Regions from separate parts of the Homo sapiens genome. Here region 1 is linked to region 2. Evidence: fine-mapped expression QTL. A gene starts in region 2. The other region holds a variant in brackets. All regions are shown on one strand. Distances are between the middles of the regions. Region 1 has its middle 38 kb from the start of OR2B6. Region 2 holds the start of ZSCAN31 (zinc finger and SCAN domain containing 31).

Region 1 (5,535 bases), 340 kb after region 2:
TCCTGTATTCAAGAGATTCTCCTGCCTCAGCCTCCCAAGTAGCTGGGATTACCGGTGCCCATCATCATGCCAGGCTAATTTTTATATTTTTAGTATAGATGGGGTTTCACTATGTTGGCCAGGCTGGTCTTTAACTCCTGACTTTGGGTCATCTGCCCCCCTTGGCCTCCCAAAGTGCTGGTATTACAAGCATGAGCCACCATGCCCGACCTGCAATATAACTTTTATAATGATCGTGTAACCTTCAACCCTTTCTAAAGTCATCTTTTAATCTAATAGCTTTTGTTGTAGATTCTATCAAATTTTCTGTAAATGATAATGTGGTCAATGAATAAAAAGAGTTTTTCTTTTTAATATGAATGCTTTTTATTTTATTTTCTTTCCTACTAGACTAGCTAGAACTTCTAGTACAATGTTGAATTATAGTGGCAAGAGTAAACATAATTGCTTTTTTTCTGATTCCAGGAGAAAAGCATAGCTGTGGTTTTGTTTAGAAATTTTTTTTCCAGGTTGAGGAAGTACATTTTTATTCATAATTTGATCGTAGATGGATGTTGAATTTTGTGAAATGCATTTTTGCTTCTATTGAGATGATCATATAGTTAATTTTTTAATCTGTTAATCTAGTAAATTAGATTGGTTGGTTTTTAAATGTAAACCCACCTTTCATTCCTATGATAAATGCTACCTGGTCAGATTGTATTATTCTTTTTATTATGGGATTAAATTTGCTAAAATTTTGCTAAAAATTCTTGTATCTATGTTCATGAGTTATATTAGTCTGTAGTTTAATTTTCTTCCAGGGACTTTGTCTGGTTCTATCAGAATAGTGTTGGCCTCAAAGGATGCATTTGGAAGTATTTAATCTGCTTCACTTCCTGGAAGAGTTTATATAGAATTGATATTACTCTTTACTTAAACATGTAGTAGAATTCACCGGTGAGACTATCTGGTCCTGGAGTTTTCTTTGTGGGAAAGTTTTTAATTTCAAATTCAGGTTCCTTAACTGGTATTCAGATTTTCAATTTCTTCTTGAATAAGCCTTTGGTATTATGTACATTTCATGAAATTTTCCCATTCCATAGGTTGTTGAATTCATTGGCATAATTTGTAATAACTTTATTTAATACGATTATTTTATTATCCTTTTAGTATCTGTGGCATCTGTAGTGACATCACTTCTTCCATTCCTGATATTGGTAATTTGTATCTTTTCTTCCTGACTATTCTAGGTAGAAACTGCTTTTGGTTTTATTGGTTTTCTTTTTTGTTTTATGTTTGTTTGTTTTCTAACTGATTACTTTTTGTTATTTCTTTTGCTGTGTTCATTTTAGGTTTCTGTTTGCTCTTCTTTTCTAGTTTTGTTTTTCTTTTATTTTCTTTCTTGTTTTGAGACGGAGTCTCACTCTGTCACCCAGGCTGGAGTACCCTGGTGTGATCTTGGCTCATGGCAACCTCTGCCTCCCAGGTTCAAGCAATTCTTCTGCCTCAGCCTCCTGAATAACGGGGATTACAGGCACCAGCCACCACACCTGGCTTAATTTTGTATTTTTAGGAGAGACAGGGTTTCACTACGTTGGCCAGGTTGGTCTCAAACTCCTGACCTCAAGTGATCCACCCACCTCGGCCTCCCAAACTGCTGGGATTTCAGGTGTGAGACACCATGCCCAGCCCTTTTCTAGTTTCTTAAAGTGGAAGTTGAGGTTGTTGCTTTGTGATATTTCTTCATTTAAATTTAATATAATTATCAATATGCTTGCATTTGAATCTATCATCTTAGTTGTTATTTCCTATTTTTCATCTATTTTTTGTTCTCTTTTCCTGCCTCCTTTTGTATTAATGAATATTTTATGATTCTATTTTATCTTCTTTTAGTCTTATTAGCTCTACCCTCTTTGTTTCACTTTTTATTTTACAATATACATCTTTAACTTATCACAGTCTAACTTAAAACAATACAATTTCATCTACCTGTTATGCTAGATGAAATGTAAAAATTATTGTTTTATATTTTACTTCCACATATATACATCTTTAACTTATGCTATGGACTAAATGCTTGTCATTTAGTCAAGCATAAATGACAAAATTTACGAGTTGAAATCCTTACCCCCAATGTGATGATATTAGGAGATGGGGACTTTACGAGGTAATTATATCATGATTGTGGAGCAGTCATGAATGGGATTTGTGCCTTTATAAGAACAGAAATGACATGTTGCTCATCCTTTCTGTTCTCCACCATGTGAGGATACAACAAGAAGACAGTTGTCTGTAAATCTAGAAGAGGGCCCTCACCACAACCCAACTGTGCTGGCACCTGCATCTCAGACTTCCCAGACTCCAGAACTGTGAGAACTAATTTCTGTTGTTTGTACTACCCAGTCTGTGGTATTTTGTTGTATCAGCCCAAACTGGCTAAGATGACTTATCATGGTCTAAACTGCCTTTAACTGTTTCAGACAAAGTATTTCAAAGATATCCATTTTATTTGTAAGTAAGAAGTCTATAATTGAGGGAAGGCATTCTTTTCTTTTTCACAACAACGTATCTAGGCAGCTTGAGCTCTAGAGAGCCTTCTCCAGATATGACAGGTGACATACAGGTTTGCTCAAGGAATCCCTGTTTCTCTTTTTTACTTTCCAGTAAAAAAGAAAGCAACTTGCTTTAAAAAGCCACATTTAAAAAGATGTTCCCATGTTTTTATGACTTACCTCTAATTTCTTTGAAGTCATAATACGTTCCTAGGACTAATGGGTTAGAATTTACTTGAAATTTAACAATGTGTTCCTCTATAAGAAAATAGAACTCTCAGTTGCAGCTGAGTAAGCTTCTCTTTCCACAAGGGTGCAAATGCCTGAGTGTTCTAGATGTCTTGGATTTGTGTGGGTGCATGTACATCTCAAACATGAGAAGAAACCATATAAGTGCCTATGGCATGAGAAGTAGAACATTTTTCTAACATGGACAAGGGAAAATAAGCTTATACAATATAAAAAATTTTAAAGCAAC[G/A]TGATTTAAAAAGACATTTCAAAAGATGTTCCCATGTTTTTATAACTTTCCTCAAATTTCTTTGGGGTCATATTGAATTCCTCCTTAATTTATTTTACTAGAGCACCATCCAACTTAGCATATGTTTTTCATTAGAACAACTGGATTCTTTTTGTAAACAAATGCTTCAATTGAAACTGCATGCAGTACGATTTTGATATCCTTCACATTTCCCAGAAAGTTTTATAGAACAAGAAAAAGTAAAAATTAGAAAGCAGAGCCTCCTTCTCTCATGTGTTTTATGTTTGGGGTAATGTGTGTATGGTCTTTTAAATAAAGTACTCACTTATGTTACCCAAATGCAGCTATTTCCTAAGCTCAAATTGTCTATTTGAACAGATAGGGAAGCCATTTAGACCAGTGATCCCAAACCTTTTTGGCACCAGGGACTGGTTTTGTGGAGACATTTTTTCCACGAATTGGTGGGGGTTTCAGGATGAAACTGTTCCACTTCAGATAATCAGGCGTTAGATTCTCACAAGGAGGATGCAACCTAGATTTCTCGCATGTGCAGTTCATAATAGGGTTCATGCTCCTAAGAGAATCTAATGCTGCCACTGATCTGACAGGAGGCAGAGCTCAGGCCATAATGCTAGCTCCTGCCACTCACCTCCTGCTGTGCAGCCCAGTTCCTAACAGGCCACGGACTGGTACTGGTCCATGGCCCAGGGGTTGGGGACCCCTGATTTAGACAATCAGGTGACTATGAGAATGGAATTGTAGAAGAGCTATCATTTTACTTTATATATTATCATTAGGTACACTTTAATTTGATAATTTTCACTTACGAACATAGATCAGGAAGAATTTCCGTGTCATCTTATCTACCATTTCTTTTTCTTTTTGCCCCTCACTTTACCTATTGGGGCAGAGCAGTGATTTTCTTAGTCAGTTTAAGCTGCACGTAATATATAATTTTTTTCAATAAAGCAGATATCTATGAAAAACAGACCCAAATTCCCAGAAGACATATTGATAAGAAGAAGCAATTAAGAGTATTTATTATAACATTGTTAGTATCCACAAAAGTTTAGACATATGGATGATTATATCAGAGATTAATTATCTGAGTAAGAATTAAGGACTTGAGGAAATTCAAAGTACACAACTCTTAAAATTCAACAATAAAAAAATGAACAGCCCAATTAAAAATGATCTGAACAGTCTGGGCACGGTGGCTCATGCCTGTAATCCCAGCACTTTGGGAGGCCGAGGCAGGTGGATCACCTGAGGTCAGGAGTTTGAGACCAGCTTGGCCAACATGGTGAAACCCCGTGTCTACTTAAAGTACAAAAATTAGCCGGGCATGGTGGTACGCATCTGTAATCCCAGCTATTTGGGAGGCTGAGGCAGGAGAATTGCTTGAACCTGGGAGGTGGAGGTTGCACTGAGCTAAGATCGCACCGTTGTGCTCTGGGGACCAGAGCGAGACTTCATCTCAAAGAAAAAAAAATATCTGAATGGATACCTCACCATACAAGATATATACATGGCAAACGAGCATGTGATAAGATGCTCAACATCATATATGATTAGAAAATTGCAAATTAAAACAATGAGATACAACTACACACCTATTAGAATGGTTAAAATCCAAAACACTGACAGCACAAACGAAGCCAATGATGCGGAGCAACAGTAACTCTCATTTAGTGCTGATGGAAATGCAAAATGGTACATCCACTTTGGAAGACTGTTTGACAGTTTTTTCTAAAACTAAACATATGCTTACCATGTGATCCAGCAGTCACACTCATTGGTATTTACCCAAATGAGTTAAGAACATGTCTACATACAAATCTGCACACAGATTTATAGAAGATTTATTCCTAATTGCTAAAATCTGGAAACAATCAAAAATTTTTTTAGTAGATGACTTGACAGATAAATTGTAGGATATCCAGACAATGGAATATTTCTTGCTAAAAAAGCTAGCTATCAAGCCATTAAAAATAGGGAGGAAACTTGAATGCAATGCATATTATTAAGTGAAAGAAGTCAATCTGAAAAGGGCTGCATACTTCATGATTCTAACTCTCTGACATTTTGAAAGAGTCAAAATGGTGAAGATAGTGGAAAGATCAGTGGTTTCCAGGGATTGGTGGGAGGGAAGGATGATTAGATAGAGCACAGAGAATTTTTACAGTAGTGAAACTATTGTGTACAATACTGTAAGAGGGTATAAATGCCATTATACATTTCTCAAAACCCATAGAATGCACAACACCAAGAGTGAACCCTAATGTAGACTACGGACTTTGGGTGATCATGATATATCAATATAAGTTTATTGATTATAAAAATTGACTACTCTGGTGGAGTATGTTGATAATGGAGGAAGCTATGCATGTATGGGGTGGGGGTATTTAGGAGCTCTGTAACTTTCACCCAATTTTGCTGTGAACTGCAAACTTCTTTAGAAAAAAAGTTATTAAAAATACCACTCTGGTGCAGGATATTGATAGTGAAGGAGTTTGTGTATGG
Region 2 (5,000 bases):
TTTAAAATTTGTAGTATAGCTGGATGTGGTGGCAGCAGCTCACACCTTTAATCCCAGCATTTTGGGAGGCAGAAGCAAGAGGATTGCTTGAGCACAGGAGTTTAAGGTTGCAGTGATCACACCACTCCACCCCAGCTTAGTTGACAGAACGAGACCCTGTTCTGTCTCGTTTTGTAATTGTAATTATCATTACAATTACAAAAAAAATTGTAATGTGATGTAAAGAATGTATTTTCCATTCTATATTTATTTATTTATTTTTCGAGATGGGATCTCACTCTGTCAGCCACGCTGGAGTGCAGTGGCACAATCTCAGCTCACTGAAAACCCCACCTTCCAGGCTCAAGCAATCCTCCCACCTCAGACCCACAGGCATGTGCCACAATGCCTGGCTAATTTTTGTATTTTGGGTAGAGATGGGGTTTCACCACGTTGCCCAGGCTGGTCTTGAACTCCTGAGCTCATGCAATCTGCCTGCCTCAGCCTCCCAATGTGCTAGGATTATAGGCGTGAACCACCACGCCTGGCCTATTTTCCATTCTAAATCTCCATTTTTGTTTTTTTTCTTTTTCCTTCTTTATTTATTTATTTATTTAATTTTGGAGACAGGGTCTCAGTCTGTCACTCAAGCTAGAGTGCAGTGGCACGATCATGGCTACTGCAGCTGGTGATTATCCCTGCTCAGCCTCCCCAGTAGCTGAGACTAATAGCATGAGTAACTGTGCCTGGATAATATTTTTTATTTTTTGCAGAGACAGAGTCTCACTATGTCGCCCAGGCTTGTCTTGAACTCCTGGACTCAAGAGATCCTCCCATCTCGGCCTCTCAAAGTGTTGGGATTACAGGCGTGAGCTATTACACCTGACTTAAGTCTCCATTTTCATATCTATGTTTGTACTTGTAATTTTGTATTCCTTTTCTCAAATAAGGTCTCTTGAATTGTATAAGCTGGGTCTCTTTCTGTCTGTATTCCTTGTTACATTATAAACCCCATGAGGATGAGGACCTTGTGTCCTTCATTATTATTATATCCAGCAAGCCCTTGGCACAAAGATCGCATTCAATGGGAATCTATATAATTAATGAATGAGTTGTAAAAAATCAATTCAACCTCTTAACATGTATTATCTGTCTTCTCTATTTCTATTGCTACTGCCTTGATTCAGGCCCTCACTCTCTCTACCCTGGATTCTTGTAGTAGTCTCCTAGCTGGTCTCCCTGCCTGTAGTCTCATTTCCTTACAGTCCATCCCCACATGGCTGCCAAGATAACATTTCTAGATGTAAATTTGATCAGACTGCTCAAATTCCTTGGTTAGGGATCCAAAAAAAGTAAGAGCTGGTGCCCCTGCCACATATACCACTCTCCAGTCATGCTGATCAGCCCAGTTCTTTGGATGTACCAAAGGATTTCACCCCAGTTCTGCTTTTGTACATTTGATTCCCTCTCCCAGAAATTTATTTCCTTTGCTCCTTTTCCAGTGTACACTGGCAGATTCCTGCTGAGTCTTGTTTTGCCCCATTAGTTTTCCTCTCTCTTCCACGCCACGAATTCAAACTAATACATACATTTATTTCCTACATACGTACTTAGCATGTTCCAGAGGCTATTCTCATCGATTTACAAGCACTTATTTTATTTTACTTCATTTCACATGCACGTCTGTTTTACGCAGTTACTTGTTTACACGCTCTTCTTCTAGACTTTGGGATTCCAGAAGACAGAGGTTTGAGTGTAAAACACAAAATAACAAAACCACAACAAAAACAACTCTGTATTCTCGTCCCCACCATTACCATCTCTCCTTTGTGATGTCAAAGAGACCAGAGGAAGTGGACAGACTCGGGGAAGAATAGGTAAGTATTAGAGACAGAAAAAGTATGAAGTCCCTTCTGTGAGGACTAACAATAGTGATGCCATTTTACAACCTTGATGACTGTGTTCTCAAGAAACAAAGCAAATGTCAACCCCGTCCATAGCTTCAACAGAGCATAACAGCTCTAACCGCAACAGAGCCTAACGGCCCTAACCACATCTGTCCCCAGTTGGAAAGTGTCCAAACAGTTCCAACTAGCCAGCACTTCCCCAACCCCTCCCCAACAGAAACTTTATTATAAAAGCCTCAGCTTGTAAGCGATCAGGATCTCAGCCAGATTCCTAACTGGAACTCTTCGCAGGCTTTTCCTGTAAATAAACCTGTTTGGCCGTGGAATTGCCTCCTGTTACTCGCTCTCTACGTTTATATCTTCCTAACACCTTCCGGCTCTAATGTTTTGGGTCTCGATGACCATCTAACTCCTAAATGCTGGGGGCCGCTCCCCATAGAAATGCCTCGCCGGATTTCTCCGCCTCGCACCCAGTGGGACTGGGATTTTTGGCCCCGGGGTTTGCAATAAGGGAGTCACCAAGCAGCAGCCACCTCTGGAATTCCTAGAAAGGAAAGAGTTGCCTGGCTTCAGCCAGTGGGCTCAGAACGGCTGACGCATTTCCGGCCTTTGCGGTTGATCGGTCATTGGGGTGCTGCAGCCCCGCCACCTGTTCCGTAGCTTGCCGGTGCCCCGAAGGTGAGTCTTGGCCCCTTGTCGCGACCCGCCAGGTTCCCAGAAGATTTCAGGTCTGTGCCTTGGAGTAGGCGGGGAGGGAACGTCTGCGCAGGCGTGACCCCCGCCCCTACACATTCACTGGCCTGAAGCCCCCGTGGAGTAGGTGGAGGTCCCGCCCCTTATCCTGAAGATTAAACAGCCTTTCTTTGTCTGAGATAACGCCCGGAGTTCTTTGTCCTGCCTCCAAGACGATAAAGGAGCGCAGACACAAAGGTGAGGTTAGAGCGAAAGTTTAATAAGCGAAAGGAAAAAGCTCTCTGCCAGCAGAGAAGGGGTCCCGACCGGGAGTACCCATTATGGGGCCCGTTCTGGGGTTTTTATGGACTGGAAAGGAGAGGGAATGCGCTTAGTCTGCGGGCTGTCCTGGCGAACGCTTGACTCAGCTTGGTCCGGGACCAATCAGGAGCTGAAATGATGATTCATAGCTGCTGCTTAGCTTGGCCCAGGACCTATCAGAAGCCGAAGTGAAAGTTTGGCCCCGGACCAATCAGGGGCTGAGGTGATGATTCACAGAAGCTGGGCTTATAGTCCTAATAAAGGAAAGTAGAGCGCCTGCCGGAACCTACCAGAACCCACCGTGTCCATACCCACAAAAGGAGAAGAAACTTTTCCTGGGAACCTGCTGACTATACAAAGGACAAAGGCATTATGTGTCAGGCCTTGTTCCCTTATCTGAGTGAGCTGGAGGTTCTGTGCAAGTTTTTATCCAAATGGGCCCGAGGTTTTTCTATCTATGCAGCCGTGGGCATATCTCTAGGCACAACACCCTGTGCTAGTTCCCTTATCGGTGCCTGCAACCTGATTTTTTCCCCAGGCTTAGTTTTATGTTATGTGGGGATAAGACACTAAATCATGGGCGGGGGCAGGCTCTCCAGGGACCCTTCCCTTGCTATCCACCTAAGGCAAGCTAGGTAGCCCTTTCACAGGGTGGTGGGAGAGACCCCTAGAGAGGTCGGAGCTTTGCGGCGAAACCGAGGTCCAGAGGTAGAGAAGGGTCTCTCCCTGTCAAAAGCCTTATTTCCTATATACACGTAATTTTTATTTAATAAGTCAACATTATGCAATGTTTGTCGCATATGTTTTCTTTAAATATTGTAAAAACCACCAACCTCATAACTTGTCACCTCTAGTTTCTAATGCATCTCTAAAAATTGGGGACATTTCCCTACATAACCACAAGATTATTAGCACACCCAACTAAGTGTAGGCGCTTCACCTAACACCTAGTTCATGTTTAAATCCTTCCACCCCCTGTTGTCCCACAGATGTCTTTTATACCTGTTTGTACCAACTAGGATCCAATCATAGACCACTCACTGCATGTAGTTGAGTCTTAACCTAGGGCAATTTTACTCTTTGCCTCCCTTCCTCCCATCCCATTGCCTTGTTTAAAAGGAGGCTCTTCCAGTCTTCCTGTAGTGCATCCCCATTTCTGGATTTGACTGTTTCCTCATGGTATTTAAGGTCTTCTTCTGTTTTCTTGTCATCGTAATTGGTATCCTTTGGGATTTATTTTACAACACACATGATTTGTGATTTACATGATCTCTTTGTTGCTGTTGTTAATTATGCTGACGTGAATGAAAACATTCTCATGAATGAAAACATTCTCTTTTATGCTCTTTCTGCCATGTTTTTATTTCGGTGAAGGACAGTGGGGACACATCAAATTCTGCATTGTTTCACTCTTTGCTGTCTGACACCTCGTAAACACTTAGTAAATATATGTGAAATGAATTCCTTTGTGGATTACAGGCAATGCATAAAAACTTAATCTTGTATTTAGGATGAGCTCTTCCACTTCCTCCAGGGGTATACCTTGTATACATTTTTTAAATTATGGCTTTTATTTTATTGTATTGTAACTATATCCTCATGAGCTATAAACACCTCTATATTCCAAGCTCTTAGCTCAGCTCCATAAATTGATTGTCCAGTGACTGAACTGCTTTTACAAAGGTTAAGCTCTTTCTCCTTTCACTTGTACAGTAACATCTAAACTAAGTGGAAGTCTTTCTAGATTCAGTGCAATAGTCTTCACCCCCTCCACTTTACCCTTTTTTTTAACTCTTGCCTCTTCTGCTTCTACTCTTGCTTTCTGCTTCCACTTTTGCCTCTACCCTCATTCCCTCAGCTCATTCTCCATCCAGTAGCAGAGCTTCTCGGTACAGAATTCAGCCTTGTCACTCCCTTTCTTAAAGCCTTCAGTGGTTTCTCATTGCATTTATAAAATCCTAACTCCTATGCCCTACATGATCTGACTCCTGCTTGGCTTGCCAGCCTAATATTTTGCCACTCTTCTCCCACATGACTGTAGACACTCCAGCCTCCTTTCCTGTCTTTGATGGCAGCATGCACTTCCTCAGGGCCTTTGGATAGTCCAGAGTGCTCTTCCCC

Evidence for each region.
Region 1: its variant is fine-mapped to the expression of ZSCAN31 in nucleus accumbens (GTEx, PIP above 0.99).

What each region holds. Positions count from the first base shown.
Region 1 is chr6:27,992,426-27,997,960 of GRCh38, reverse strand. No RefSeq gene overlaps it. Among named protein-coding and RNA genes, the nearest start is that of OR2B6, 38 kb to the right of the region's middle. The variant G/A (reference allele first, on the strand shown) is at 3,013.
Region 2 is chr6:28,333,646-28,338,645 of GRCh38, reverse strand. It overlaps ZSCAN31 (zinc finger and SCAN domain containing 31), which reads left to right and starts at 2,498. Exons shown (of 4, transcript NM_030899.5): 1 at 2,498-2,564. RefSeq lists an enhancer at 2,833-2,952.